Regions from separate parts of the Homo sapiens genome. Here region 1 is linked to region 2. Evidence: fine-mapped expression QTL. A gene starts in region 2. The other region holds a variant in brackets. All regions are shown on one strand. Distances are between the middles of the regions. Region 1 has its middle 27 kb from the start of EWSAT1. Region 2 holds the start of EWSAT1 (Ewing sarcoma associated transcript 1).

Region 1 (2,912 bases), 27 kb after region 2:
GCAGACAAGCCAGACCACCATTAAAACCCATGGCTCCAATCTGAATGAGACTATATGGAATGGTGAGGACTGTGGTAAACTGGACAGTCCTGGGCCCTCTAACAAGCGGAGGCCTCAAGTCAGCTCTTGCCAGTTGTTGCCATGAAAGAATGTGGGCCCAGGAGTGCTTGCCCTTCCTTATTTTCAAAAGAAGCTTGGAATGTGGATTCTAAGATAAAATTTCCCTATTTTAAAAACCTTTGCCCCAATCATAACATGCCTGTAGGCTATCAGTTTACAATAATAGTTTAGAAGTTTTAAATCCTAATTCATAGGGATGTTATTTTGGAACTGGGAATAGACCAATATTTTTTCCCTTTTTTTTAAGGAGGGAAGGGCAGGTAGTTTATAAGGAGAGGGAAAAAAAATGAGTAAGATGGGGAAGGAGGATGAAATCATGGAAAACATGGTGGAAAAGACTTCACTACTCAGGCGGAGCTTGGAGGTTTACACAGTGCTCTCTTCTCCTCTGTATAAAGAATATATCACTCTGCAACATCCCTGGTGTACCACACTATTAGTTTGGTGACCATTGTGGAGTCCCCTCTCGCAATGACTGGGCTTGGCCAGCAGGACATTAGCAGGTATGATGCCCGCAAAGCTTGTCAAAGACTTGCACCCTGAAATGCACGCTGTTGGACATCTCACTTGGGATCCAGCTGCTGTGTGGAAATGCCATGAGGAAACGTATGGAGGAAAGAGAGGTCCCAGCCTTTCAACTATACCTGTCAAAGTGCCAGGCATGTGGCTGGGCACGGTGGCTCATGCCTGTAATCCCAGCACTTTGGGAGGGGCCAAGGCAGGCGGATCACCTGAGGTCAGGAGTTCGAGACCAGCCTGACCAACATGGAGAAACCCCATCTCTAGTAAAAATACAAAATTAGCCGGGCATGATGGCGCATGCCTGTAATCCCAGCTACTCAGCTGAGGCAGGAGAATCGCTTGAACCTGGGAGGTGGAGGTTGCGGTGAGCCGAGATCGCACCATTGCCCTCCAGCCTGGGTGACAAGAGTGAAACTCCATGTCAAAAAAAAAAAAAAAAAAAAAAAAGGTGCCAGGCATGTGAGCAAAGCCAGCTTGGATCCTGGTTGTAACTACATGACAACCCAAGAGAGACCAGCAGAAGAATTCTCTAGCCCAGCCTCAGTCAACCCATAGAATCATCATAATAAAAAGATTGCCTTAAGTCCCTAAGCTTTGGTGTTAAGCAGTGAAAACTAACAGAAACACTTAGTACGTAGCTGGCCTATGAATCAGATAGGATCTTGTTTGGTTAGACGTAACAGAACACCTGATAAATAGTGACTTGAGCAAGTAAGAGGCTTATTCTCAGGCAACAAGAAGTCTGCTTTTGTTTCATTGGTCAGAACCAGCTG[C/A]ACCAAGGGGGACTGAGGAAGTGTGATTAACTGGGCACATTGGTATTCTGAACAAAACAGGGTTTTTGACTAGTAAGGAAGAGGGAGGAATAGGTGTATATTTTGCAGTGTCTGCCACAGCCGTCTTACTAAAAAAAGAACAAACGTGTTTCTCTCATGATTTTTCCCTTCTGTACCAAATTTAGTCATAAAACCACAAGCCCAGCAACCCATACAGCCAGCACACATTTATCCCATGTTTGAAGGAAGAGGTCTCATCTTGATTTAATGGCTCAGCATTTTGTATTTGTCTGCCTGCTTCTTCCAGGTTCATTTCATAAAGAGCTGATTGATCTTGAACTTGATGCAGCCCATTGATACCATCACTACTAATAAAAGGTTTCAGGGCAATCAACTTTAAATTGGAAGCAATGGAGATGAGCAAACATTTTCAAATGAGCATATCTTCTGCAAAACTTAGCAGACTTCCAGGATGGTTGGTACAAGAGAAGAGGTCATAGAAGAAGCTAAATATAAAGTTTGCAGTTCTCATAGTTAGCCTGTGGCCATTTCAAGAGTTAGAAGCGCCTTGGCGGGAGTGGGGGGAGAAGCAATAAAAGAAAATGAGATTGAAATTCACTCATTTTCTTTCTTTTTAGCAACTTCTTGGAGAGAGGAAAAGGAGATGAATGAGACATAATATCACAGAACTTAGACTTGGCAATGCTCTCAGAGATGAATTATCCAGCCTTTCACTGAATTGCAAATAATAGTAGCTAGAATTTATTGAGTGTTTATCACATGCTAAGTGTTATGCAAAATAATTTACTGGCAATCTTTGATTTTACCTGCACCCCATCTCTAAAGGGTAGTATGATTTTAATGTCCACTTTACAGACATCAAGTTAAATAACTTGTTCAAGGCCATGGTAAATAAATGGGGGTACCAGATTTCCTGGCTATGTGTATTGCCTCTCCTTACTTCTTTTGACCCCATCCCATAACAATCTCTGCTCACCTCTTCCAGGTCTCCATTCCTCTAGACAACTCATTCCTATTTGAAAAACCCATCCTATTAAGTTGAAGTCCGCTTTTCTGAATCTCTCATCATCTGGTCTACCCTCTGGAGCAACACAGGCTGATTCCTCTGACCTACGATAGTCCTTCCAATAATGCATCCTCTGAGCTTTTTCTTCTCTATGCTAAACGTCTACAGCCATACTAACCGTTCCCTTCTTAAATGCTGTGTTTCTTCTTCTATGTGTACTGTATTCAAGGACCGCAAATTCAAAGTTCTACAGACACCAGGATAGTAATGAAAACAAATAGAGCAGGGTAGGTATGGTAAAATCATATGGCTGCCTCACTCTTTCATTCTCCCACTTTTCTTAGAGACATGGATATAGAGATGCTTTCCTCTACAAACCCAGTGATAAAAGGCAACGAGCACTCAACCTTGCTACTGTGGGACAAGAGGGAGTGGTGAGCACTTTGGCAAACTGGCAGCAGATGCTTGAT
Region 2 (2,912 bases):
GATTACAGACATAAGCCACTGCACTCAACCATAATTTTTTTTAAACTTTTTGTAAAGACGATGTCTCACTATGTTGCCCAGGCTAGTCTCGAACTCTTGGGCTCATGCAGTCCTCCCACTCTGACCTACCAAAATGCTGCAATTACAGGCATGAGCTACTGCGCCTGGCCAGAACATGCATTTTAGAACTGATTAAATAAGTAAGGTAAATCAGACACGAAGGATATACAGAATAAGCCAAAGAGTAGGGTGTAGGGTGTAGGGAGACTTGGAAGAAGGAAAGTACTGTGAAGAGGGGACAGCTTGTGCTGAGAGGTCTGGAGGGAAGAGGGTGGCTGCTTATAGCTCAGTAAGACTGCAGTTAGAGCCTGTGGGCTGGAAGGTGACAGATGAGGCTGGAGATGGAAACAAGGGCCAGATCATGGCCTGCCTCATAAGTAGATGGCCTTAGTCCCAGTTTACATCTGTAGTGCATCTTTTTGATCTTAAGTGCCCTGTTGGACAATAAATTATATGATCACCCTACTAATAAGCCATTTTTAGATATGTGCTTTTTATCTTAAGAGAAATGAGAACAATGGAAGGGTTTTAAACAGACAGTAACAAAATCAGATTGTGAAAGTGTGTGTGTGTTGGAGGCAGGGTGTGTATTGCTTAATTTGAATGTTTTTGATGAGCTAATATGTTCATACAAGTCAAAACTTTAAAAAACACAAAAGTGAAAAATCTCCCTTCCACCCTGGCCCTCCTTCCACCCCTTCCACCCTACCTCACGGCCAACCCAATTTTCTTCCCTAAAAGCAACTGATACTATCAATTTCTTGTGTGCCCTTTCAGAATTTTGTTTTCCTTTTCTTTGAGATGGAGTCTCACTCTGTTTCCTAAGCTGGAGTACAGTGGCGCGATTTCGGCTCACTGCAACCTCCACCTCCCAGATTCAAGTCATTTTCCTGCCTCAGCCTCCCCGTAGCTGGGACTACAGGTGTGTGTCAGCGCGCCAGCTAATTTTTGTATTTTTAATAGAGACGGGGTTTCACCATGTTGGCCAGGCTGGTCTTGAACTCCTGACTTCTAGCGATCCGCCTGCCTCGGCCTCCCAAAGTGCTGGGAATACAGGCGTGAGCCACCATGCCCGGCCCCTTTCAGACATATTTAATGCATATAAAATTAATTCTTCTTTGCCTTTCAAATGTACCTATTGTTTTCTAATTCTTTATTTTCATTTAGTTTGCCTCCTTTTCTTATTCCTCTCACTATCTCTCATTGAGTTTCCACAGTATGTGTTCCCCTTTTACTGCTTCAGATTTGAGGCTTCATTTTTTAAGAGTGAAGGTTGGATAGTTTTCTTTTTTTCTTTCACTTCTTCCCCAAGCTCTGGCAGCTCAGGATTCATTTCCTCCCACTGTTTCATTACCTCTTCCCTCATCTCTCATGTGCGTGTTTTCTTTGTGGGGGAAATTACTTTGCTATGTTTTCTTAATTTTCTCGTTAAAATTGTCATCTGCTCCATGACAATGTTTTTTGATGAATCTTCTTTACCTGCTGTTTGCTGTTTGCTTTTTCTTTTTTCCTCCTTTGTTTCTTGTCAAAACTTTGTATATATTACTCATTATTGAAGAAGGTAATGTTTTTTCTTCCCCGTGGACCTCAGGTGTGAGAGAGGCCAAGATTGTCTTCCAGGTTGGCTAAATTTTCCTTATGACCCAGGGTTGATGTAAATTCACTGAGCCTTGAATTCTTTCCAACCAATGGCAAAGATTCCCCGAGGCAAAGTCTCTCCTCCCCTGTTGCCACAGAAACAGACCATTTCCTACAACTATGGCTTGTCTGAGTCCTGAGCCAGCAGAGCTCAGGCCACAGCACCTGCACCCGTTTTCTGCTGCTGCACACAAGGGCTCTGTGCATTCCGCATCCAGGTGTGCCCCTCCTCTTCTGGAGGATTCTTTTTCAGGCTGTCCCAGAGACTTTGCAGCACAGCATCCTTGCTCTATTTCTTCCTGCAACATCTCTGCTGAAGCTCTATTGCTTTTGGCAACTCTTCCGTCTATTTTGTGGTTTAGGTGTCTCCTACTTTTACTAAAAATGGAATTTGTGTTTTTATCGCTCAAGTCCTTTTTGCTTTTGGATTACTTCCAGAAAATGAAGGGAGGGTTACTAACTTTATGCCATCTTCAAACCAGAAGATCTTAGATTAGTAAGATCATGTTGGCCATGGCATGGAGAATGGGCTGGAGGTGGAGAGACTGGAGGTTGGAAGTCCAGTTAGGAGATTGCTCCTGCGCTGGGGAGTTGGTGTTAGGACAGAAGATCCAAGACGCGTTTCAGAGGTAACTGCTGAATCTTACTGGCTGGTTAGATGTGTGTTTGGGAGTGGGGGTGGATCAGGAAGAAACGGGATATTTCAGGGCTGGCTGCTGGAGGCTGCTTGCGATGTAACGTGGAGCTGGGCTTCCTGCCTGTTCTGCAGCTTCCTGCCACATTCCAGGCTGCATCTGTGTGGCTGGGCCCTCTGGGAAGGTCATAGGGAGTCCTAATGGGACAATGAGCTTCCCAGCCGTTCCCTTGAAGGTCCCTTGCAGATATCTGGATGAAACTCTTGGCTGGTGGAAACTTTCAAGAAGGCCTGAGGCAGTCAGAAGCCAAGTTGTGGTTTCAAAATTACCGGCCTATTCTCCAAGTCTCCCTGATGATGAGATCTCAAGATAAAAACAAGAAAACTGGGCGCAAAATGCTCTGTGGAACTGTTGATATCCCAGGGTTTCCTGCCAAGTCCTGGCTAAGGAACACAGGGAGGGAAAGGGGACCTAACAGAGGTCATAGAACCCACTCTCTGCCTCCATAGAGGCTTTCCAGGTCATCCAAACTACGAAAATTGAACAGAGAGCTTTCTCTCTCAGATTCTCCAGAGGGGG

The links. PIP is the estimated chance that this variant, and not a neighbour inherited with it, causes the effect.
Region 1: its variant is fine-mapped to the expression of EWSAT1 in blood mononuclear cells (TOPMed, PIP 0.98).

Annotation. Positions count from the first base shown.
Region 1 is chr15:69,105,912-69,108,823 of GRCh38, forward strand. No RefSeq gene overlaps it. Among named protein-coding and RNA genes, the nearest start is that of EWSAT1, 27 kb to the left of the region's middle. The variant C/A (reference allele first, on the strand shown) is at 1,416.
Region 2 is chr15:69,079,050-69,081,961 of GRCh38, forward strand. It overlaps EWSAT1 (Ewing sarcoma associated transcript 1), which reads left to right and starts at 1,801. Exons shown (of 4, transcript NR_026949.1): 1 at 1,801-2,327.